Linked DNA regions of Homo sapiens: all the other regions are linked to region 2. Evidence: fine-mapped expression QTL. A gene starts in region 2. Each other region holds a variant in brackets. All regions are shown on one strand. Distances are from middle to middle. Region 1 has its middle 110 kb from the start of RGMB-AS1. Region 2 holds the start of RGMB (repulsive guidance molecule BMP co-receptor b). Region 3 has its middle 300 kb from the start of LINC01846.

Region 1 (8,185 bases), 110 kb after region 2:
CTGATTTGTGGGTTGCATGGATGCATGGAAAAAGTGTGGTTTCCCAGGTGGGGTAGCACAATCACTCACTACCTCCCTTGGCTGGGAGTGGGAGCTCCCCTTGCACTGTGCAGCTCCTGGGTGTGCTGTTACTCCGCCCTGCTTTTCCTCACTCTCCATGGGTCTTGCCAACTGCAAAGTCAGTCTCAGTGAGAGAACCTGGATACCTTAGTTGCTGCAGGATTCATTCACTGTTTTCATTCTTCTTGGTAGGCACCTCTGACCATAGCTGTTTCTAGTCAGCCATCTTGGCCCCTCCTTTTCCTGGATGGTCTTGATGTTTGTAGATGTTCATCAGTGTCTGGGCATCATTAAAGAGTTAGGCATTTATTGTCGTTTTGCAATCTGGGCTTGCATTTTTAGGAAGGCTTTCCAGGTATTTGAAGGAACTTGGCCCATCCAACAATGCTGTGGTTCTTAGAAACTTGTAGAAATACTGCCTTAGTAGTCTTGAATAAGATCTAGATGAGTTCTCTGAATTACCAGGTAGATACTCTTGTTTTTTTCCTTTACTTTCTCCCCAAAAAACAGAGTGTCTTTCTTTCTCTCTCTCTCTCTCTCTCTGTTCTGAGCTGCCTGGAACTAGGTGTGGGTAGACTCAGGCATTCCTGTGGCCACAACCACCAGGACTGTGCTGATTTAGACCTGAAGCCAGTACAGCACTGGATGTCATCCATGGCCTGCTGTAACCACTACATGGCTACCACCTATGTTCACTCAAGGCCTTAGGGCTCTATGACCAGCATGTGGTGGAGCCAGCCAGATTTTAATTCCTTCCTTTAGAGTGGCAAGTTCCCCCATGGCCCCTGTGGGTCCAGAGATGCTATCTGGGAGCCAGGGATTGGAGTAAAAAATGTTAGCAATTTACCTGATGTTATATTCTACTGTGGCTAAGCTGGCATTCAAACTACAAGACAAATTCCTTCTTGCTCTTCCCTCTACTCACTGGCAAAGAAACCGCTCTCCGTGTCCACCATCACTACCAGCTCACACAGGGCTTCTGCCTGGCCACCAGTGATGTTCACTTAAGGCCCAAGGGCTCTTCCGTCAGCTTGTGGTGAACACTGCAAGGCCCAGGTCTCACTCTTTAGGGCAGTTGCCCCTACCTTTGGTCCAGGGCAGATCCAGAATTGATTTCCAAGTGCCTAGGCTTGGACTTGAGGACCTCAAGTGTCTTCTTGTTGCTTTACCCCAGTGTGGCTGAGCTAGTACCTATGGTGTAAGACAAAGTCCTCTTTCCTTCTCCCTCTGCTTTTCTCAAAAAGGGAAATTTCACTATAGCCACCATAGGTGGGAATATGCTGGGACACACCTGAAGGCAGCATGTCTCAGAGTGCAAGACCCATGCTGCATGCTGTATTAACTGAGTATCATTGTTGGTTATCTGGGGCCCAGGAGTTTGTTTTTTTTGTTTGTTTGTTTTAGATGGAGTCTTGCTCTGTCGCCCAGGCTGGAGTGCAGTGGCATGATCTTGGCTCACTGCATCCCCCACCTCCTGGGTTCAAGTGATTTTTCTGCCTCAGCCTCTGGAGTAGCTGGGATTGCAGGCATGTGCCACCAAGCCCCACTAATTTTTTTTTTTTTTTTTTTTTTTGTATTTTTAATAGAGACGGTTTTCACCATGTTTGTCAGGCTGGTCTCAAACTCCTAACCTCATGATCCACCTGCCTCAGCCTCCCAAGCGCTGGGATTACAGGCATGAGCCACCACGCCCAGCCCAAGAACTCTTTAATTTTCATGCAATGAGTCCTGCCAGGACTGGGTCATTTCATTCAAGACAGCACATTTTCTTTTGGCCCAGGGAGTGTCAAGAAATGAGCTAGGGCATGGAATGGGGACCTTATGACTGTGTACCATGCCATATCCTACTATGGCTGTGCTGGTATCCAAGATGTCAGGCGAAGTCTGTTATACTTTTCACTCCTCTCCTCAAGCAGGAGGAAGGCGTCACTTTTGTTGTTGCCAGCTGCATGGCCTGAAGTTGGAGAAGGCATGGCGCAAGCATTCCCTTAGCCACCTTGGCTGGTGTCTCCCTAGGTCACATGCCATTCCAATCCACTGTCTCTAAGCCCAGGCCAGCCCTAGTAGTTGCCTGATTTCCTTCAATTATATTGCTCTTATTTTTTTATAAAGAATGTTATATTGCATTTAATTATTATCGTAAGGGGAGAAATGTGACAAATTCTATCCTAGAACATTTTATGGAGTTGGCTTTCCTTTTGCAAGGCTCTAAAACACCTTATTTTCCCACTAATTCTTATAAAACTGCCCCCATTAACATCAACCCTCAGATAACATGTAAGCAAGTAGCAAAGAGCTAAAAACACCAGAGTAAATAAAATCCACCTCAAGCCAAAAAACAACAACAAAAAAGAAATTGCAGTCCTTCAGTCCTAGACTGCCTCTTAAGTTTACTTAGAACCCTAGAGCACTTTGGCCAGTGGTGGAGAGGCCTGCTGAGAAACTCAAGTTCTGACTACTTTGATGGGCAATTTTCCTCTAGCGAGGTCTCATCCAAATGCTCTCTTCGTGCAAGGGTGTTGGCTGAGCCCATCACAGCTTTGGTCTCTGCTGTGACAGGGCAGCACTGAGTTCAATGTAAAGTCTCACAGTTGCTGTACTTTCCCTCTCCCAAGCCTATAGATTTCTCCATGCTGCATGGCTGCTACTAGGGGATGGGGGAGGGGTGGTGGAAGCACTCCCTTAGTTGTACCAGCTTGTGTCTCAGTAGATTGTGTGTCCCTCCAGTCCACTGGCTCTGAACCGATCTCAGCACTAGGACCTGCCTAGGAGTTGCAGTCCTTATGGCCTAGACTGCCCCTTAAGTTCCCTTAGGGTTCCAGAGCACTTTCGCCATGTGGGTGGCAAAGCTTGCCGGACTTCAGGCTCTGACCATTGGGATGGGCGATTTCCCTCTGGCTGCAGCTTGTCCAAATGCTCCCTTGGTGGGCAAGTGTCAGCTGGGTACAACCCAGTTCTGTTTTCTGCTGTGACAGGGCACACTGAATTCAATGTAAAGTTCCCCAGTTGCTGTGTTCTCCCTCTCCCAGTACACAGATTCTCTGTGCTGCATGGCCACTGTGGGGGAAGGGTATGGATGAGAAGAGTGGCATCAGCTATTTAAGACTGCCTCTCCACCGGGCGCGGTGGCTCACGCTTGTAATCCCAGCACTTTGGGAGGCCAAGGTGGGAAGATCATTTGAGGTCAGGAGTTTGAGACCAGCCTGGCCAACATGGTGAAACCCTGTCTCTACTAAAAGTACAAAAAAATTAGCCGGGCATGGTGGCGCATGCCTATAATCCCAGCTACTCTGGAGGCTGAGGCAGGATAATCGCTTGAACTGAGGAGGTGGAGGTTGCAGTGAGCTGAGATCGTGCCATTGCACTCCAGCCTGAGCAACAACAGCAAAACTCCATCTCAAAAAAAAAAAAAGACTGTCTTTCCTACTGCCTTTCAGTGCCTCTCTCAGCTATATGAAATTAAAACCAGGCACTGTGGGCCGGGCGTGGTGGCTCACGCCTGTAATCCCAGCACTTTGGGAGGCCGAGGCGGGCGAATCTCGAGGTCAGGAGATTGAGACCATCCTGGTTAACACGGTGAAACCCCGTCTCTACTTAAAATACAAAAAATTAGTCGAGTGTGGTGGCGGGTGCTTGTAGTCCCAGCTACCCGGGAGGCTGAGGCAGGAGAATGGCATGAACCCGGGAGGTGGAGCTTGCAGTGAGCCGAGATCGCGCCACTGCACTCCAGCCTGGGCGACAGAGCGAGACTCTGTCTCAAAAAACAAACAAACAAACCAAAAAAAAACCCACGCATTGTGAGTGCTCATGTGATTTTTGGTTCTTGTGATGGTGATTTTTGTGTGTAGTTAGTTGTTAAAATTGGGTGTTCTTGTGGGGCTTGGTTGGTAGGGGGAACAAACGGTGTAGGCTTCTATCCAGCCATCTTGCTCCACCTTCCTCTTGATCACATTTTAAAAGTTTCTGCTAAAATGTTAACTCCTCAGAGAAGATTTCTTTTATCACCCAG[T/G]CTACAAAAGCCCTCTTAGCTTCATTGATACATTCTAACACTTCATTATGATTTTTCTTCATAAACATTTGTAAGAAACTGACCTTATATGGACATTATAAATTTATTTGTTTGTTCATAGTCTATTTGAAATCTCTAGTATCTAGAACAGTAGCTGGTGCATAGTAGGTGCTCAATAAATTATTAATAAATTAATATTCTATAATTTAAAAAGTATTCCACAAGAATGTTAATTAAAATCAGCTTTAAAAATACCCTTTTGGTTTGGAGATCTGATCCAACATGCTTTTCTCATGGTAGAAATTAATTGAATAAAGTTTTATTTGTTTGTTTTTGAGATAGGGTCTTGTTGCCACCCAGGCTGGAGTACAGTGGCATGATTATAGCTCACTGCAGCCCTGAACTCCTGGGCTCAAGCAGTCCTCCTACCTCAGCTCCTAAGTAGCTAGGACTACAAGTGTGTGCCACCACACCCAGCTATTTTTAATTTTTTTGTGGGGGCACAGTCTCGCTGTTTTACCCAGACTGATCTGGAACTCTTGGCCTTAAGTGATCCTCCTGCCTCAACCTCCAAAAGTATTGCTATTACAGTTATGAACCACAGCACCTGGCCAAGTAAAATTTTTAGACATGTTTCTAAAACTTTTGTGTTATACATTTCAATTAGGATTGCATATTGTTCTTTAAACTGCTTGAACTCAAGAAGGCACAAACACAACACATTGTAGTTTTTTCCCCCAATCTTTTTCTTTCATCATGATCTGTTGGGTTTCCTTTCTTATCTTAGGCAGATCTCATAGTTTTCTCGTAATTTTCAATAATTAAGATATGCCAGTGTAGTCAGTTTAAACCTGCATTCCTCTATTTTTCCTCCCTACTTGAGCAGGTCAGGACTGGCTTCCACAAACCTGCAGGGAATTTCAAGCTCTTCTTTCATTTCACACCTCAGAGTAGGGGCAAAGCTATTTTTAAATTTCCCCTTTCCTCTCTTTTGTATTTGTACGTTTTTGGAATTGGATTTAATAAAAAAAATGGCAAGGTCAACTCCTGTACAAACAGACTCTCCTTCCTGATTGTTGCTACCCCTCTGGATTACACTGGTTAGCGAATGGAACCCTTGGGGAGCAGGCAATACAACTGTTGGCTTTCTCTTGGAGCACAATTGTTAGCTCTTCAGGGAAGTCTGTGTTCTTGTTTTATTTTTTCCTTATATTTTCAGAAGAGTTATTTAAAAACTTTAGTCACAGTAAAAATGTTTAAAACATACATGACCAGTGGTTGTTGAGTATTCTTATACTCTGCTTGATGGGCAAAAAGGGGTTTAACATTTCTGATGTCATATTGGCAATCAGCTTCAAAAGACTCATGAATATGTAGAGCCTTTGAGAAATTCTACTCCTGTAAATTTATGGGCAATCAGCTTTAAAAGACACATGAATGTTCTCACTCATAGGTGGGAACTGAACAATGAGAACACTTGGACACAGGAAGGGGAACATCACACACCAGGGCCTGTCGTGGGGTCGGGGGAAGGATAGCATTAGGAGATATACCTAATGTAAATGATGAGTTAATGGGTACAGCACACCAACATGGCACATGTATACATATGTAACAAACCTGCACATTGTGAGCATGTACCCTAGAACTTAAAATATAATAGTAAAAAATAAAAATAAAAATAAAACACTAAAAAAAAGACACATGAATGTGTACAGCATTTGACTGAGAAATTCTACCTCTGTAAAATTATTCCCCTCCAAAATAAGTCAGAAACATATGAAAATATGTATATATATAGATATTATTACTGTGTTTTTAATAGCAAACATTTGTAAATGAGGTATGAGGTATGAGGTATTGTCATTATACCTCATTTACAAATGTTTGCTATTAAAAACAGTAATAATATCTATATACGTACATAAATTGTACACTTACACAATGAAATACTATAAAGCTTTAAAAATGGTAACTGACATTTACTGAATATTCACTGTGTGCTAGGCATTCTTATAACTTCTTTACATATATTGACTCATTTAATCTTTGCTACAACCCTATAAGATAGATACTATTATAATAATCATTCTATATGTGAGGAAATTGAGGGTCAAGGTGTTTAATGATCTTGCACAAGATCACACAATTGGTCAATAAGACTCGGGTTCAACTTAAGTAGTCCTATTCCAGAGCTTATGTTCAAATACTATGAAGTACAACTTCTCCAATATAAGTAATAAGGTAATTGTATATTTATTTGTTAACATACACATATTTCAGATATAAAGTTGAGTAATAAAAAGAAACAGTATAATATGCATTGAATGAAACAAGTTTTGAATGATGTATAGATAGATATATAGATGTACCTGTTATGCATATTTACAAAAAATTCTTGAATGTATTGGAGTTATATAGCTCAAAATATTAATCCATTGTTATTTTTTAGGTAATACATAGTAGATTTTGGGTGATTATTTTTCTTTACACACATGCAATACTTGGACTCATCTTTATAAACATCTAATACTTGAGAAATAACACAACAGAAACCATTGAAATCCCTGCTCATCTCTATGTAAACTATGGAAAGGGTTTTCTATCTTTTCCCAGCCTAGCATGTTGCTGGTGGCTGTGTACCTCCTGATGTGGTAGGCACTGTGGCTCTATAGGAATTCAGCAGTGAGCTGGAGGAAGAGATTCAGGCTAATAGGGAGCTGAGAGTTGCTGTACGTGCACCTGGGAGCCTGCCGTGGGATACATGACACTATGTTCAAAACTCAGTTGCCCCAAGTAATTTTCATCGAACTTGTTTCTCAAAAAATAAACTTAAAATAAGCCATAGATTCCCTATTTCGCTTTTTTTTTTTTTTTTTTTTTTTTTTTGCTGGTCATATATTGGCTCTTAGCGTGCCTATTGGCATGTTGTTTTAGGTTCGAAGATAAAAAATAATAGTATTACCCAGTACTCTGTAATAAAATGTATTTTAAAATACACGTTTCCCCAATAATAAATACATACAAACTTGTTTAAGTTAGATGTTCGTATAGTCTTGAAATTTTTTGGGGGGGAAAGAAAATATCAGGAAACCATAATCTTGTAATAGTATTTGAACAATTTGACAAATAGATTTCAACATGAAGATTCAAAGGTCCATGTTCAAGAGTTCTCTAGATTTCATAGCAATTTGAACAAATCTATTGTCCCAAGTCATCTTATAAGGGCAAACTTTCCATTAAGCATACTGAGACTCCTCTTCAAAATCACCCCGGTAACTACTTTGCTTCCAAAATAATGACTAATTTAAGAATAGATTGTAAAAAGACAGCATGACTATTAGTAAAGGATTTTTCATTGGTGCTTTTTCATCACTAATGACAGTCAGATTGGGCCATTACTGATTTTGGGGTTCTGACCTCCCTGCAGTTGTCTTTTCAATTGCCCACTTCTCACATAATCAAGAGGGATTACACAAACTTCTCCAACCACAGCTGTGCTTGAAAGAGTAAAGACTCTAATTTCAATGTATGGAGGTGTTTTAGTTGAAGAAACTGCAATTGCAAAGTTATTTTGAATTTATTTGGCACCTTGGTAGGTCTTATTGCAGTTTACCCTTTTATTTTCCCATTTTAAAAATAATAGAAACACAGACCACACAACTTATGGAGAGTTCAAGCCACAGAAGTGAAAGGAAATATCTGCATTCAGTTCTCCAAAGACCTCTTGTTCAGGAAAGTGGGAAATCTTCTAGCCTGGAGTGAGAATAATTGATGTCCACAGGGGGGTTACAAAACAAGAGAAAGGAAAGTGTACTCAATAGGAATTGACTCAAGGATCTTTTTCATCCACCAATGAGCCACCCACAGTTTTTTCTTCAGAGGTTTCTTTTGGCATGCTCCCAGAGAGTGCTTTGAGCTTTCTCTCAGGCAATCTAATATATTGCCATTTCTGTGCCTAGTTTACAGCTTTTCCAAACAGAAACCTGAAAAAAAACTGCCAATGAACAACTGCTCAGCTTTATCAACCTTGTGGGTCTTTCCAGGATATGAGCAAACAACACTGAGGAAAGACATTTCACACCTTTCAGTTCCTAAGCCGCTATCTTTATACAA
Region 2 (8,185 bases):
TCTTCTGCTTTGGCTAAGGCTTCCAACAGCATTTTGCTACAGAGATGATGGGAGGGAAGAGGGCTAAATACAGAGAAAGTGTGTTTGGGTCAAAAAGGGGAAAATACTATATAGTCTAGGCTTGGTATTCACTTTAACCTGAGTCAAAGATTAAAACATTTTAATATGTTGGAGCTATGGATTTACAGCAATCATCAAATCATACTTTCAAAAAAAAAGTTACAAAAACATCTTTGTGTGGAATCTACTTTATGTTTGCTCATTCCAAAGCTGACAAAAGTAGCTCCAGTATTTACTGAATTTCTCTTTCCAAAGCAGATCAAATAATTTTCAGCTATTTTTCACTAGAACTCAAATCAAACCAAAACAGAAATTAACCAACTAAACAACTCCAAAAGGCGTTAAAGCCATTTTGCAGATGGGAAATCCAAGGCAAAGGGATATTAAAGGGCTTGTTCTGGCAGAATCATAAAACAGCTAGCATCATTAAGCCAGGATGTGGTGCCTTCCCTCAAAACTTGTTGTTCTTCCATCACAGGTCACGTCTCCTCTTATTTCCTAACTGCAATGACAGTACTTGATGGCTGAAAAAAAGACTTAAGTAGCTATTGCATTTTTTTTCTTTTAAAATCAGATACACAGAAAGCAAGAAAATAAATATGGGGCCAAGGTCTCAGTAATGAAGAGCTCTTAAGACTACGGATAAATGACAGCACAAGAACTTCCCGCTAAACTTGCAGTGCCTATTTGTTCTTTTTATGGTCTATAAAATCTATCCGAGCATACGTTTCTTTATAATTATTTCAAATAGTCATAAAATATCAAACGAACAGTATGGAAATGCAGATGGAACCATTCAGAAGGAAAGAAAAGTGGAATTTAGATTCCCAGCTCCCTTTTCATACCTTCCTTGCAACCCCCCAAACCTTTTCCTTTCCTTTTTTTTTTTTTTGAGACGGAGTCTTGCTCTTGTTGCCCAGGCTGGAGAGCAGTGGCGCGATCTCGGCTCACTGCAACCTCCGCCTCCCAGGTTCAAGCGATTCTCCTACCTCAGCCTCCCTAGTAGCTGGGATTACAGGCACGCGCCACCACACCCGGCTAATTTTGTATTTTTAGTAGAGACAGGGTTTCTCCATGTTGGTCAGGCAGGTCTTGAACTCCCAACCTCAGGTGATCTGCCCGCCTCAGTCTCCCAAAGTGCTGGGATTACAGGCGTGAGCCACAGCGCCCGGCCTAAACCTTTCCCTCTTTCATAGCAGGTAGGTGCTGACTGCTTAAACAAATCTCAAATCAAACAGATCTCCCGGGGTTCTTTTGCTTTGGCTAAGGCTTCCAACAGCCTTCTGCTACAGAGATGATGGGAGCGAAGAGGGCTAAATAGAAAGTGCGATTGGGTCAGCATTTTCAGCTGCCTTGTGGGCTTCTATATAATGACTAATTTGTAGCATACACCCAGAAATATCCAGGCTTCATGAATTTATAACGACAACGCACACTTTGCCTGTTATAGGCGGTAAAGTAAGCCTCCTGTCAAAATGCCAAGACAATGCGGAGCAGAAACAATCTCAAGGATGTAGCCAAGAAGGCCATGAAGTGTATGAGTAAGCAAGTAACTCCCATATTGGATCTCTATTCAGGAATTGCAGAGGTTTGCTTAAAAAAAATAAAATAAAATAAAGCAACTAAAGGTACTCTTTTCATACTCTTTTCATTCCCCAAGGGCAGAATTAAAACTCTGCAGCTACAGATTTCTCTATTTTTGGGTCAGATTATCTGTGATCAGTGTGACAGTATTTTCACACCAGTTACTGAACATGCTAAAGCATTTGTGGGTCTAGAGCTTTCATTTCATCATTTTTGAATGAATCAGACATAAAGACCTCACCATTCAAGACAGTTTCTTTAACACCAGGACTACACGTGTGAATCTGCAGCACAATCACCAGTTTATAATAAAAGAAATGAGGTATTCTGAAGCTGAATTAAGTGAAATGTGGAGCCATATGGGGTGCTGAGGCAGATGATAAGGATCCAGGCATAAAACATATAGTAGTCCATCTGCAAAGAGCACTGGCACTCTTGCTGGGTTCCCTTATCTGAGAAACAACCCGGGCATTTAAATAGCACCACTCTTCAAAGAAATCTCTCAAAAGGAGCGTTCTTTTCTTTAACAGGATTAATCGCTTCACTCCAACAAGTTGTCCATAGAAATCGCTTACCACATTGTTGGGCTGAATCTAATGGTGACTTAAATGAGGACACATGAAGATACTGGGAGCTTCACATTCCAAATTCTTGAACGAAGACACCCTACTTTTCTAAACCTTTAAGCCAACTTAGTATGCCTTTCACGGGCTAGCAAAGAAACCTTCAGGGACCACATTCCAATTCTGTCACAGGATCCTATGGCAACTATGGGAAACAATATCCAAGCAGCCAAGGGGGACACAATCCCACCTAGCACAATTTCCATTTCATGAAACTTACATTTTGGTATTATGGACACATATTTTTCGCACAAACACTCCTGAATATATCTTTTAACATGTCAAGAAAAATTTTCCACGTAACTACATGCAGATTGACACTATTTTCTAAGGTTCTTAGGTTACTAATTGAAAGCCGTAATCATCCTAAAACTTTCTATTACACTTTTTTATTAAGCCGTCTTTTCCCTAATTGTCGGTGTTAAAAAGCAGCTATTACATCATAATGCAAAGCTACGCAAAGTAAATTAAGTCTCCTCAGATGTCACATTTTCCCCCCCATTACTTAAAAGACCTCCCTGATTTTTAGCATGGCGGGTATGGTTTAATAAGTAAAAATTACTCCGCACAGTTGGGTGGCATCGAAGTTCAGGATTCTCCAGACCAGAACGTTGTGAAGTGTCTCATATATACAGGACAAAAAAGGTCTGGAAGGAAAAGAAACTTATCTAATGCTGTTTGTTCTCAAGACTAAAGGAAAATGACCCTTTCAACCTTAGCATTAAAAAAAATTCTTTGTCTAGGCAAATTCCTAGAAAAAAATAGTGTGAAGAGCGTCCTGGATTTTCATGAAACGATTTTTTAAAAAGAAAAATAGGTATCACATGGTAGAAGGCTCATTTGCAGGCTTACTTCCCTTGGAACATACGCCTCAAGGCTGGGGAAGCGCCGACCTCCAGAAGGCAGCATGGTTATCTGTCAACCCCTCACGGAGCCCGAAGACACCCGGCTAGTCACAAAACACGAGCTTTTCCCGGGAGGCTGATCGCTGAACAAACGCAGCTTTTGCCAAAACGAAAGAAATCCCTGCTCAAAAAAGTTGACGTTACTTCGAGATTAACTCCCAGGTTTGCAAAATCTGGTAAAAATCTTTCCATCTGGTGTACTTCCTTCGCCTCGCCGCCACCCCCAACTCCAGAAAAGCAGCACAAGGCTCCTTGTCTCCCTCCGAGGCGGCTGCGACGGCGGAAACCTGATCCGAGCCTGACTTTCAGTAAACACCAGCGCAGAGAGCAATAAAGCATCCGGAACATTTGTCTCGGGCGCGCGGCCCCCGCCCGCTAAATGTTTGATAAGCGGCTGTCGGAGGGGAGATTTGTCAGCGGTCCGAGCCGAAGGCGGGGAGGGTGGAGAGAAGGCTCGTCTCTGCGCCCGGCGGCCGCCCGGTGGGTGGCTGCGTTACTGTGGCCCGGAGCCCGACAGAGGTGCGTGTCAGGGGCTCGGGAGGCCTTTCCCGTTGCGCCACGCCGCCCTTCCGCCCCGGCGAGCGCCTTCGAGACCTGGGGCTATTTGGGAACAAAGCCCTAGGCCCCGGGGCTGGCTCCCCTCGCGCGCTCCCGTCCTACCTGCGTGGAGCAGCCCGAGGCTGAACAGCAGCAGCAGCAGCAGCTCCAGCGGCGGGGGGCAGAGCCCGGGGCTGCGGCGCTGCTCAACCTCGGCGGCGGCAGCGGCGGCGCTGGAAGGTGCTGCTCTCAAGCCCATGCCCGTCCATGCAGGTCTCGTGGGCTCCGGCGAGGGCGGCGGCGCGGGCGCCGTGGCGGGTCTGGGCCCGTGGCTGCGGCATGGGCCGGGGGGCGCGCTTCGCTTCCTCTTCTTCCTTCTTCAGGCCCGTGTAGCAGATGGGGCGCCACCACCGCCGCAGCAAGCAGCGCGCAGCCGGCGCAGCCAGTCCGCGGCGGCAGCAGCGGGGCGCAGGGGCATCGTGGCGGCCGGAGGCGGCAGGCAGGGAAAGGGGCGGAAGAGAAGACACAAAGACCGTGAGCGACTGCTGAGACGAGTCCCGAGCGCGCCGGCACCCCGGCCCCAGCCAGCGTGGGCTCGGCGGGCGTGGACCTCCAAGAGGCTGGCCCAGCCCTAGCGACCACCCACCGGCGGCCCGGATATCTCTGCGCGGCAGCCCCCGCGGTCGATCAATCTCAGTCCCGCACTGCCGTCCCGCCCCGCCCTGTGCCCGCCAATCCACGACGCCATAATCCCCCGCCGTGTCCCTCCCTTCCTCCCCATTGGTTGTGACCGCACGTCAGCCCGACTCAGCCTGCCAATCGCAGGACCCAGAGGGCCCTCTCCCCCGCCCGCTCAGTGTAATTCGAGTTCCCTGTCCATCGACTCCAAGTCCTCTCTCCTGCGCCGCATGCTGCCTCGCGCTCCCTTTCCTTCCCCCTCTACCCCCTTCCGCGATTTACTGTTTCCTCGCGCCCAACAGAAATGGGCGACCGCAAGTCTTACTCTCGCCGGCGTTACAAAGGTACCGGCCTTTGACCTCTCCTTGAATTAATGTGATCCGATTCATCTTCCCTCCAAGTTTTTTTTTTAATTTAATTACCCCTCCCTGCCCTGGCCCTGCCAGCTTCAGCTCCACCTCCTTGGAGGAAGCAGGCGCTTTTACAGAGCGCCGCGCGGCAGGTCCCCTTTCAGCCAATCACATCTGCGGAACCGCGTTCCGAGTCGTTTGAGGGTGTCTGGTAAAGCAAGCTCGGGGCGGTGTTGGAAATCTGAATGTCACCCGCGGTCCGGAGCAGATAGGATGGGCTGGGAAGGTACCCGCGAACTGCCGCCGGAATTCGCTGGCAGCTGTGCGAGGCTCAGGTGTTCTAGTTTGACATTTCCCTTCCTGAAAGCGGCAAGGAGAGGTCTAAGAGTGGGCAAACTTCAACGTTCGGTTACAGTGTAATTAATGAGAGTGGTGGGTTTTTATGCAGTGTAATTATGCCACGATTTGTTGTTGCTCAGTGGCTTTTTCACAAATTTCTACAGATTATTTAAATTTTCCACAAATTTCTACGGATTAATTCAATGGCAGCTCACTTTCTCCTTTTATGATCGGATGGGTCCGAAAGTGAGGAAAAAGACAATTGTCTACAAAGAAAGAGGCTGCCAAGTGGAGACAGAAAAGCAGTTATGAGACTGATGATAGATTCCAATTTGTTATCGGTAGGTGTGAAGTGGTATCTAATCTCAAGAATGACCTCAAGGCTGAGAGACACTTGATACCGCCCTCGCCTTTGCCTTTCCCCAAACAGCACAGGGTTGCCATTTAAAATCCACTAACATCCAAATCGTAGTTGGCAACTGTACCCGCTATGTTACTCAGAATCTCTAATTAGGAATTTCTTATCAACCACGGACATGCTGATATTCCACACATGTTTAAATGAGCTAATCAATGGACTAGGATAATTGAGGGGCAAACCTTCAGTCTCACCAGCTCACTTATTAGACACATTTTGAATTGCCCAAACCACTAGGTCCCTAATGAAGGATGCCTATCTGTTTTTACTGTAACTTTTCATTACTTACTTGTTACATACTATGATGACTTAAGGGGTAAACACACCTTTCACTATCCACAATATAATCCAAGCCTGTGTATATCCATAATACGCTTAATAATAGCTTCACAGTTGCCTGGAGAAATGACTTTTGGGGAGGAAGTTATATGACATTTTTAGATAATGCTGCGGACTAAGTATTATTAGAGCAAAAATTTACTATCTTGCAATTACTTCATATAATTAGATACAGTTCATGACATACTAAGAAGCATCTTAAAAAAGTAATCAAACATAATACTGATTTTCAAAGTATTTGGCTAACAAAGACTACATTTTTTTCTCTTAACCCAAGATTTAATTCGACCCCTATAAAAGCAGCATCTCACTTTATTGATCATACTTCAAAGCATATACTCAATAGTTAAGGATCAATAATTTCTGTTTGGTTTGGGTCTTTCCACTCGTGACTTTCTATGATTTTTTACTCCCCTCCCCCTATATCCTGTTCCATAAGTACACGGGTGCTCTAGATTTTCCTATCAATAGAGGGCGTCCTCGAGTCATTGCAAATCCTGGTGTCGTTAAACGGAACTGTTCTTCAGAGGAAAAACTTCATCTCTATAAGGTGCTTTATTGCTCCTCTGTTGTAAAATTTGACAAGCTCGAGATTTATAAGCCTAACAATTCACTTTTTATTGCTGCATAAGTGTTCAGCCGCTAGAGGAAAATGCTAATTTTCACAAGTAAACCGCAAGGTGGTTCCTATTTTCAAGACATAGGTCAGTTGACACACTCGCGGGTAAATTCGTACTGTTCACAAGATCAGGAATTGGCTTGGAAAGCAAGAGCGTAGTGAATAGTCGCTTATACCGCAGCCACTCCTCAAGCCCGTGAGCTGCAAGTTACAAACGACTTTATATTGTACAAAGAAAAATCGGGGAGGGAGCTAGAACACAAACAAAAAAATCGGTGACTTATAAAAGTTTTATGTTTTAATCAGAAAAAAAATCATGAAGTGGCTGATGACTTGTGTAATTCACACATCCACCCTGTTTCTTGCCACTGGTACTCTTTCTCCCTTTCTCTTTGTTTTCAGAAAGGAAGGAGGAGACCTGAACAGTACATCCGGAGAATCCAGCAAAGCATACTACGGCATGAACGTGCAAGTGGACAGAATTAAAACACATGCCAGAAACACTAATGGATTCTAAACAAGATGCAGTTTCATTTCCTGAGCCTATACGTGATGTTTTTAACTGTTCTCCAGTTAATATGTCTCCATTTCCAGAAATCTAACAGGAGAATCTCTGACTGCTTAACAGATCACCTAAGCTTGCGATTTGTGCAATCCTTTCTAGAGTAAGGGCTCCCCGGCTGCTCCCCGGCCACTGTGTACCCAAAGCAGCGGCTGAAATAGCCCGGAGTCCAACAGCTCAGCGTCAAGCAGCTCGTGGTTTGTACTTACATCATTTTTTTTTTCAGAGCAAGAGTGAAAGTTTATTAAAAAGCGTTAGAACAGTAAGGAAAGGAAAGGAGAGAAAATAAGGAAAGTACAACTTGGAAGAGGGCCAAGCGGGCGACTTGAGAAATCAAGTGCCTGTACTTACATCATTCTTAACCCTTTCGCTCCTGGAGGGGGCTCAGCGGGATCAGGGGGCCCCTGAACTTCGGAACACGCAGGACCTGGGTGTGAGAGAAGAGTCCCAAAGCTTGGCGTGAGCAATGCACTCGCGGAGGGAGAGAGCCCGGGGCTTGCGGGGGGCTCATCACCCGCTCGTAGACAACGGGCCCCCGCAATCCCTGCGGGCTCCGCCGCTGCTCTCACCGCTCAAAACGGCAGGTGCAAAAAGCATTTGGGAGCCGCTTGCCAGCGCGCGGAGGTAATGCGCTTCCTGTCCATTTATCTCAGGAAACCAGTGCAGCCTTCCCTTCGAAACAAAATTAACCTCTCATTAGCCAGCCACTCGCTCCCAAGAAGGCCTTAAAAGCTTTACCAGCTCGCTAATGTATTTAGGCTTTTCTTCCAGGCAAACGCAGCCGCCGGTCTTGACTGCCATCGCCCAAGGGGTTCCTCTGGGCTCTCCCGCGAGCCAACAGCCGACCTCTCTCCAGCCTAGTCTGGGAAACTCCAGCCAACCCAGGATCCCATTTTGTAGTCCCGGGCAGACCCGAAACCCCTGAAAGAACTCCACTCCAGAAGACGCCAGAACAAGTTCCCACGAATTTCATGGGCGCCCTTCACATGAAAACCTCAGCTCCCCTATCCTCAAGGAACGGGGAAGGGCGCCGGGGAGGGACTTCGGTGGCCAGCTGTCCCTGGGTCGTGGGCGCTGTTTGCTCTGCGGAGCGCCAGCCCTGCACACAGCGGGTGCGGGAAGCGTTGATGGGAGGCTGGAGGGCGGGGTGAGCGTAAACTAGGATCTAGCC
Region 3 (8,185 bases), 310 kb after region 2:
TTATCTAATTTGCCATACTTTGGATCTGTTCTGATTCTCTCCTTTCTTACATTTTGTGGGTTTTCCAAAATAACTCTTTTCCCTGACAGATGGTACCTCTTTCTACCCTGTGGCACATACTGCAGTGTCCCACAGCAGCTTCCAGTGTATTTTTGAAAACATATATAAGGCTTCAATTTCACTGTCTTATAAGTCATTGTGATAGGACATGTTAGGTGATACAAATGGTTTCCACAGTTTCTAGTCTTTGCCTATAAGTTTGTGAAACATACTCTCTTGAGTGAGCTTATCTCTGTGAATCTGTACTATAGATCATTTAATCTTCAAATACAACATGAATGTAGTGGTTTGGTCAGGGACACATGTGTTTGAATTACATTTTGTTCCCTGCAGAACATGCTGCAAGTCTCTCTTCCTGATGACATTGGCAGTATTCAAGTAGGCAGACATTTCTCATGGCTATGCCCAATATGGATGTATTTTCACTGCTACCTTTTAATTCCATCTGACTCTGGTGAGTTTTCTTGTCCTTTCCCCACCAATTCCCCACCCCCACCAATTATTCACAACTCTACCTACATTCTCAATTTAACTTCCATTCTAACCATTCTAGTTGGGTAATCTTATCATGAAATCTAAACGTAGTCATTCTGAACCTTTTGCTCTTTCCATCTATGAACTTAAGGAAACATATGGCCAACCTTTCCACCTATTTCTTTGCCTGATAAGATGAGCAGTTTTCCTTCATCCAAGTCGAATTCATCCCTTTGGTCCCTACACTCCTTCCTCCTAGAGACTTGTTCTTCCAGTCACTACGTCTCTCTACTGCACTTTCTAGGCATTCAGGTCAAGACATGTCTTAGTCTGTTCAGGCTCTTATTACAAAACGCCTTAAACTGTGTAATTTACAAACAATAGAAATTTATTGTTCACCGTTCTGGAGGCTGGGAGGTCCAAGATCAAGATACCAGCAGATTTGGTGTCCAGTGAAGGCCCATTCCTCATAGGTAGTGCTTTCTCTCCATCCTCACATGGTGGAAGGGGCAAAGAATCTCCCTTCAGCCTCCTTTATAATGGCACTAATCCTGTTCATGAGGGCAGTTGCAGAGCTCTTGTGACCTCCCAAAGACTTTACCTCTTAATACTACCATATTGGGGATTAAGTCTCAATATATGAATTTTGAGGGAACGCAAACATTCAGACCATAGCAAGGCTTAAATACAACTTCCTCAGAAAAGTCTTTCCTGTTTGTAAAGCTAGAGTAGCCCAGCTGGCACTCGCTTTACATCACCCTATTTTATTGGTCTTTCTTTTTTATGGCACGTATCATCATCTAGTATATCTTTTGCGTTATCTGTTGATTCTGTCATTTTTGATGTCCTTGGGACCTTGTCTATCTTGTTTATTCCCAAAGTCTCAATGCCTAGAATAATGCTTGGAACATAGTATAAGTACAGTAAATATTGTTAAATAAAAGACTAGGTGCATTCTTTAATTTTACTGACAGTTAATTTTTACTGACTCTTTTTTCTAGCTTATAAATATGTACATTACTTTCTCATTTTAAAAACAGCAAAAGTAAACAAAAGGAAAAAAACCTTTCCTTAATCCTATTGCAATTGTCTAACCCAGAGGTTGGCACTTTATGACTTACTAGCAGGCCACCTGTTCTTATAAGTAAAGTCATGGGAAGACCCATGAACATTCATTTATATATTGTCTATGGCCACTTTTTGCTCTACAATATCACAGTTGTGTAATTGCCACAGAGACCATAGGCCCATCATCCTAAAATATTTACTATTCGGCCTTTTCTGAAAATATTTGTTGACCTCTGGATCTATGCAGTTTCTTGCATTCTTTCAAATGGCATCTCTTCTTTATCTTCCTTTAATTGGATTCCATCTTCAATGCTGCACTATAACTGCTTTCTCTAAAGTTAAAAATGATGCCCTGATTACAAAATATAATATGCTCTTTTGTCTTCCTGTTTTTGAAGTACTGTTCCTCATCTGACTTGGGATTCTCAAATCCTCTTAAAATTCTCTCTCTTTGGCTTTCCTGATATTCACCGTTTTCCCTTCTCGCACTTCCTTAACTATATCTTTTCTTTTCTTAAAGAGAGTTTCTTCTTTGGCATCTTATTTATTACTATTATTATTTTGAGACAGGATCTCGCTTTTTAACCCAGGCTGGAGTACAGTGGCACAAACATGGCTCACTGCAGCCTCCGCCTCCCGGGCTTAAGTGATCTCACCTCAGCCTTCTGAATAATTGGGACTACAGGTACATGCCACCGTGCTTGGCTAATTTTTGTATTTTTTGTAGAGACGGCTTTACCCTGTTGCCCAGGCTGGTCTTGAACTCCTGAGCGCAAGCCATTCATCCACCTTGGCCTCCCAAAATGCTGGGATTACAGGTATGAGCCACTGTGCCTAGCCTCGCCTCTTCTTAATAATTTGTATATAACCCCAGGGTTCTGTCCTAAGCCAAAAGTTCCCAATCTACATACTTCTCCTATGTAAACTCAGTCCACCTGAATGGTTTCAATCCCCCTACTCAAGTTTAGGACCCATCATGTCTCCACTTGATCTTCACAGCAGCCTCCTGACTGGTCCTCTTACATTTAGCCTTACCCCATCAAAGCAACCAGAATGTTAATTTAAGTTAGTGGTTCCCAAACTTTTCTGCACATCAGATCCACTTGGAGTGCTGTTAAAATACAAATTGCTGGGCTGTCCTGGAGTTTGGACTTAGTACATCTCATTTGGGACTGAGGATTTGCATTTCTTTGCCTCCTGGGTGATGCTGATGTTGCTTTTATAGACTGCATGATGAAATACAGTGATTTAAAAAGAAGTTTGACTTGCCCACTTTTTTCTTAAGACTGTGCAGTGATTCTTCCATAATCTACAGGATTACATATAAGCTATTACATCACATAATACCCTCCGAGATCTTACTCTGTCTCTCCTACCAGAATTCTCTTTCATTCTTTGACTCCCATTTGACTCTCTTATGACCTCAGACTGCAAATTGCAACATGTCCCTCATTGATTACACACGTCTTTGCTCTTGCTTATGCCTATAATTTGTGTGCCCTCTCTACCCACCTTTCCCCTCCTTGCCCTTTAATGAGGTATCTCAAGTGCTGTTCTACTTTCCAAGCTTCCACAATAGCCAGGACACATTTCTCTCACTACATAGTTTCTCTGTCCATTCTCTATCCGCAATAGTGTTTTACTGACATGTATTTGTATTTATTTTGTCCCTTCTAAACTGTGAGCCCTAACAGAGTGCGTAGATTCTATGACTCTTTTCCCTCAACTTCTCTCTTTTCTTTTTCTCATATTACAAAATGAAGGCTCACTTTAAGTTATCGATTTAGAAATGTATTTCTCACCGAGTGTGAGAGCACAGAAATTACTGCTCCCATATATTACTGATCACAGTGTAAATTGACCCCATACTTTCAGAAAGCAATTTGGCAAACTCCTTGATAAAAAAAATCTTTCATCTTCTTGGATTTAATCATTCCACTTCTGGGAATATGGTCTAAGAAAATAATTCAGAATATGCACAGAGACGCGTGTCACACATTGCTTATAATAGCAGAACAATTGGAAACACTGAATGCTCAACATTAGGCAATGATTAAGATGCACCTAAATGCTGAAATATTGCATATTTAAATGATGATTTTAAAGCTTATATGGTAAACATAAAATTATATTTTGTTTCAAAGCTAAGTAAAAAATAAGGGTACCAAATGTTAATATAAGTGTTAATTCTAATTATAACATTTAAAGAAAAAGACTGAAAGGAAATGCACTTAAATTCTAAGTTGAGAAATGCATGATACAACTTTATAATGTGGTTACATGTTAAACAAAAATAAAAACTTATTTTAAGCATCTATGCTGTTTTATATTATGTAGCTGTCTTTAAAATTACAAGGATGAGTCAGTCATGGTTACACAGGCAATGCTTAGTTGAGCCTTCAATAAATAGCTATTCTTGTATCTGTTCCTCTCTAAGTCACCACAGGATACAATTTTAGGAACTCAAAAATATTGAGAACCTTGACATTGAATAATATTTTGACACATTTAACCTAAGTTGTGTGCAGCAGTCAAGGGTAAGATGGCTTTTGTAAGAAAAGGAAGTTGAATATAACGTGAAGATACCAAGTTACAAACCAAAGCATAAGTCACCAATGAATTATATGGATTAAGGCAAACATTATGGCATAGATTAGGGGTTAATGTGGAGTCAGTATAGTATGGTTGTTACAGTTC[T/C]CATTTTATTACCATACTCTAGATTTGAATCCAATTTTGCCTCTTACCAGTTAGGTGACTTTCTGCAAGTTTTTAACTTCTTGGAGTCTGTTTTCACATCTGTGATATAAGGATAGAATGTTTGCTTCTGGGAGGCACTGCTAATTGCTTACCCACTGCCATCCTAGCACTCTCTCGGCTTACTTCCCTCTGCACACTGCATATGCTTGGTCTTGCTTTTACACACATATACACCCACGTTCTGTCAAAGTCTGCCTCTAATTCTAGAGGCAGTTCCTCCACATATCAGTTCCTTTCTCAACCTCTCTTCAGTCAGATCAGGGTCATATGACCCAGGCCTGGTCACTTGGATCCAGGGAGATACCACTGAACTCCTCTTGGGAAAGGTTCTTTCTCCAATAAAATATATTCATGGACAAAAAGGCCATCTTTCCTTACTATGTTCTTCTCAAGTGTGAAGTCTGAAATTGCTTTAGTCCTCTGACCCTGAGGGGAGGCATCACTGACCTACAGTGTATAGCAGAGCAGAAAGATGGACAGTCTGCATCCTTGATTACATCACCACCTGGAAGACTTTCTTTATGTAATATAGTACAGATGCTTGTCATTTAAGTCAGTTTGAATTAGCTATTCTAGCACTTGCACTTAAAACCATCACAATATTTTGTGTTAAATGAGAAAATAGGTGAAGTGCTTAACAAGGAAGTGGAGCATAGTGATCAAGAGTAGAGGCATTGGAGCCAGACTGAGTTTTAATCTGGTGCTAGCAATGTAACATTGCACAAATGACTTAAACTCTGCAATGCCATATATTAGGAGGACAGAAAAAGTTGTTTTTTTGTTTGTTTGTTTTGTTTTGAGACAGAGTTTCACTCTTGTTGCCCAGGCTGGAGTGCAATGATGTGATCTTGGCTCTCTGCAACCTCTGCCTCCCAGGTTCAAGTGATTCTCCTGCCTCAGCCTCCCGAGTAGCTGGGATTACAGGCATGCGCCACCACGCCCAGCTAATTTTTTGTATTTTTAGTAGAGAGGGGGTTTCTCCATGTTGGTCAGGCTGGTCTCGAACTCCCGACCTCAGGTGATCTGCCTGCCTTGGCCTCCCAAAGTGCTGGGATTACAGGTGTGAGGCACCACACCCAGCCAAGAAAAAGTTTTCATCTCACAACTTAATAGGTACAAGTCATGGTATGAAGATAATAATACAAGGAGATATGTTAGAGGATGACTGGTCAATGTAGTTGGCAACTTTAGATGAGGTGATCAAATGTCGTCTGAAACCTAAATGATGAGAAAGGCCATACCAGTGGTTTTCTGGTGGTGGTGGGATGGAACAGTAATAATTTGGGGAAACTGTTGAAAAGTCTGAAGGTAGGAGCTAATCTGGCATAATCCAACCAACCAACTGACCAACCAACCAACAAAAATCAGAAAAAAGATTCAAATGCCTGAAGCATCACTAAGAAAGAGGGAAATAGTTTTCATTGAAGTTGGTGCAGTGGATGAGGGCCAAGTCATGCAGAGTGTGGAAAGAACTTTGAAGTTTTCTCTAAGAGCAATTAGAAAGCTTTGGTATCTTATTCATGCAGTAAATGAATAATCATATGTAATGTGTTGAGTACTTAACATATTGATACTGTTTGAGTATTTTACATGAATTACTCATTTAATATTTATAACAAACTTTTGAGGAAACTGAGGTAAATGTATATTGAGTAATTTTCCCAAACCTATACAGCTAAATGTGAGAGAGCCAGAATTTGAAGTTGGGAAGTCTAGTTTCATAATTCTTGCTTACTCCATTAAGCTTACAGATTCCGTTTTATGACTATGTGAATACAGCATGCTAAGGAAGGTGACGAAATAGAATTTGTTTCTTCTCCTCAAAGCTAAGCACAACTTTATTTCACCTGTAATTTAATTCAATTTAGTCTAACAATAACTTATTGATGTCTTACTCAGCGCATGATACTGGCTGAAGTTCTGGGGTATGGAAATGAAATTACCACTTTTCTCTTGACCTCACAGTTTAGCAAAAAGAGACAAGTGAATACATAAATATATTTAATGCAGTAAGTTTCTCTGATACTTAATATGAGTGCTCACCAATACCCAGTCATCCTCTTTTTTGAAGGCACACTTGCATTAAGCTAGGCAATGTGACTGATTTTGCCTGTAGATTCTCAGCACGTCACTTTTGAGCTGAGTCATTAAAATCCCCCGCAGAGTCTTCAGTTTCTTCTGTCCTCCTGAGGTGATTAAGGAAGCCTCATGTTTCCATAGCAGAGACATAATTTGGAAGCAGCCTGGTGGACCAATGAAGTCATTTCATAGAGAACAGCCCTGGGAAGATGCCAGACCTATCTGAATTCTCTATAAGCAAGAAATAAGCTTTGTTAGGTTAAATTGTTGAAATTTTAGGCTTTAGTTGTTGCCACAGGAAGGCATAGACTCTACTGTGTTTTCTGATATGAATGAAGCATATGTGAAGCACTCTGAGACACAAGAAAAAAAAAGGACATTAATTCTCAATGATAAAATGTAGATGTTTCCTCAGAAGTGCTAACATTTTAATTATGTATAAAAGATGAGGAAGACTTCAACAGTTAGAAAGATTAGTAGATGGACTTGAAGAGTGACCAGAAAGGGTTATCAGGGGAAAATGTATTAAGTGAATAAACACAGCATTATGTGAAAGTAAAAAAAAAATACATTTGAAAGACAGAAAATGAGGCCATGTAGCTGAAATATCTGATAATTACTAGTAAAGTGGTAGACAGATGTGAAGCTAATGGTAGAGAGATGTGAATAAAGAGAGAGATTAGGGGCCACTTGGGTTCTGATAAACCTAGTTCTTGAACTTGAGTTTGTACAATCTGGGAGAGCTGTTAGAAGCTTTTGATAGAGATGTGTGCGACAGCCACGAATAGACATCTATTGAATAGACCACAGTAATGATGATGTAGTCCCTGCCCTGTGTTGCTTGCAAACTATGATAGGAGATGTTAGATTATTTTGAAATCATTTGTTTAGGTGGCATTAAGTGTAAATTCAATAAGATAAAACACTTTTAGAGAAACCGAGGTAACTGACAGTGGAAGTTACATTTTCGCTGAGTCTTCAGTGTTCAAAAGGTGGTTAAGACTTCAAGTGGGAAGTAGGAAGGAAAAGGTAGAGGGGAAGGCCTCGTGTGAGGTAAGAGTTGGGCTCTGTGATAGCCTGCAGTCTGTGCCTAGGAAAAACAACTCAGGCAGTAATATGACCAATGACTCTAGCATTAACCAGATGTGAAAATGTGAACAGCTCAACGGGAACAGTAGTAGCAGGCATAACTTGTGTTGGATTAAATGGGTCAAGAGACCTCGCCAAGGTGCCTAGCTTAGACAGGTAAAGGAAAGATGCATGTCATTAGTTGAAATTGAGAAGGTAAGAGAGGTAGCACATTGAGGAGCCATAAAGCGCCAGCTGCTTCACCTCAGCCTAGGTCTGTAGGAGACGTAGTGGAGCCAGCTGAGTGAGAAAACAGCACTGCTTCTTACCATAATACTCGGGTGTGTATTGAATCCTCTTTCAACACATGAAGAATTTTTATTTTATACATTTATTCTTAATTTTTATGGATACATGTGAAGGATCTTAAGACAAAAATGAGCCCTCTGGAAAACAGTAGTGGTGCTCTCAAGAGGGAAAAGGAAAAGCAGTGGGTAGAGAGTTATTTATTTGATAATATTTACAAATTCCTATGGGTATAAATCTCATTATTATGGAGTAAACATGTTATTTTTTCAAGTATATGTAGATGTTGATATTGTAGATAAAATATAAATCATTACAAAATGATACTGCATACTTAGTAACTTCTTGTCATCATTAGAATTTCTTAATCACC

What was found.
Region 1: its variant is fine-mapped to the expression of RGMB in whole blood (TOPMed, PIP 0.94).
Region 3: its variant is fine-mapped to the expression of RGMB in whole blood (INTERVAL, PIP 0.93).

Annotation. Positions count from the first base shown.
Region 1 is chr5:98,656,320-98,664,504 of GRCh38, reverse strand. No RefSeq gene overlaps it. Among named protein-coding and RNA genes, the nearest start is that of RGMB-AS1, 110 kb to the left of the region's middle. The variant T/G (reference allele first, on the strand shown) is at 4,070.
Region 2 is chr5:98,769,854-98,778,038 of GRCh38, reverse strand. RGMB (repulsive guidance molecule BMP co-receptor b) reads right to left here and starts at 4,376. Exons shown (of 3, transcript NM_001366508.1): 1 at 3,833-4,376. The coding sequence starts at 3,968. RGMB-AS1 (RGMB antisense RNA 1) reads left to right here and starts at 4,955. Exons shown (of 2, transcript NR_033932.1): 1 at 4,955-5,417; 2 at 6,855-8,185. RefSeq lists enhancers at 3,140-3,259, 3,515-4,014, 4,750-4,799, 7,178-7,678 and a silencer at 3,900-4,529.
Region 3 is chr5:98,456,531-98,464,715 of GRCh38, reverse strand. No RefSeq gene overlaps it. Among named protein-coding and RNA genes, the nearest start is that of LINC01846, 300 kb to the right of the region's middle. The variant T/C (reference allele first, on the strand shown) is at 4,300.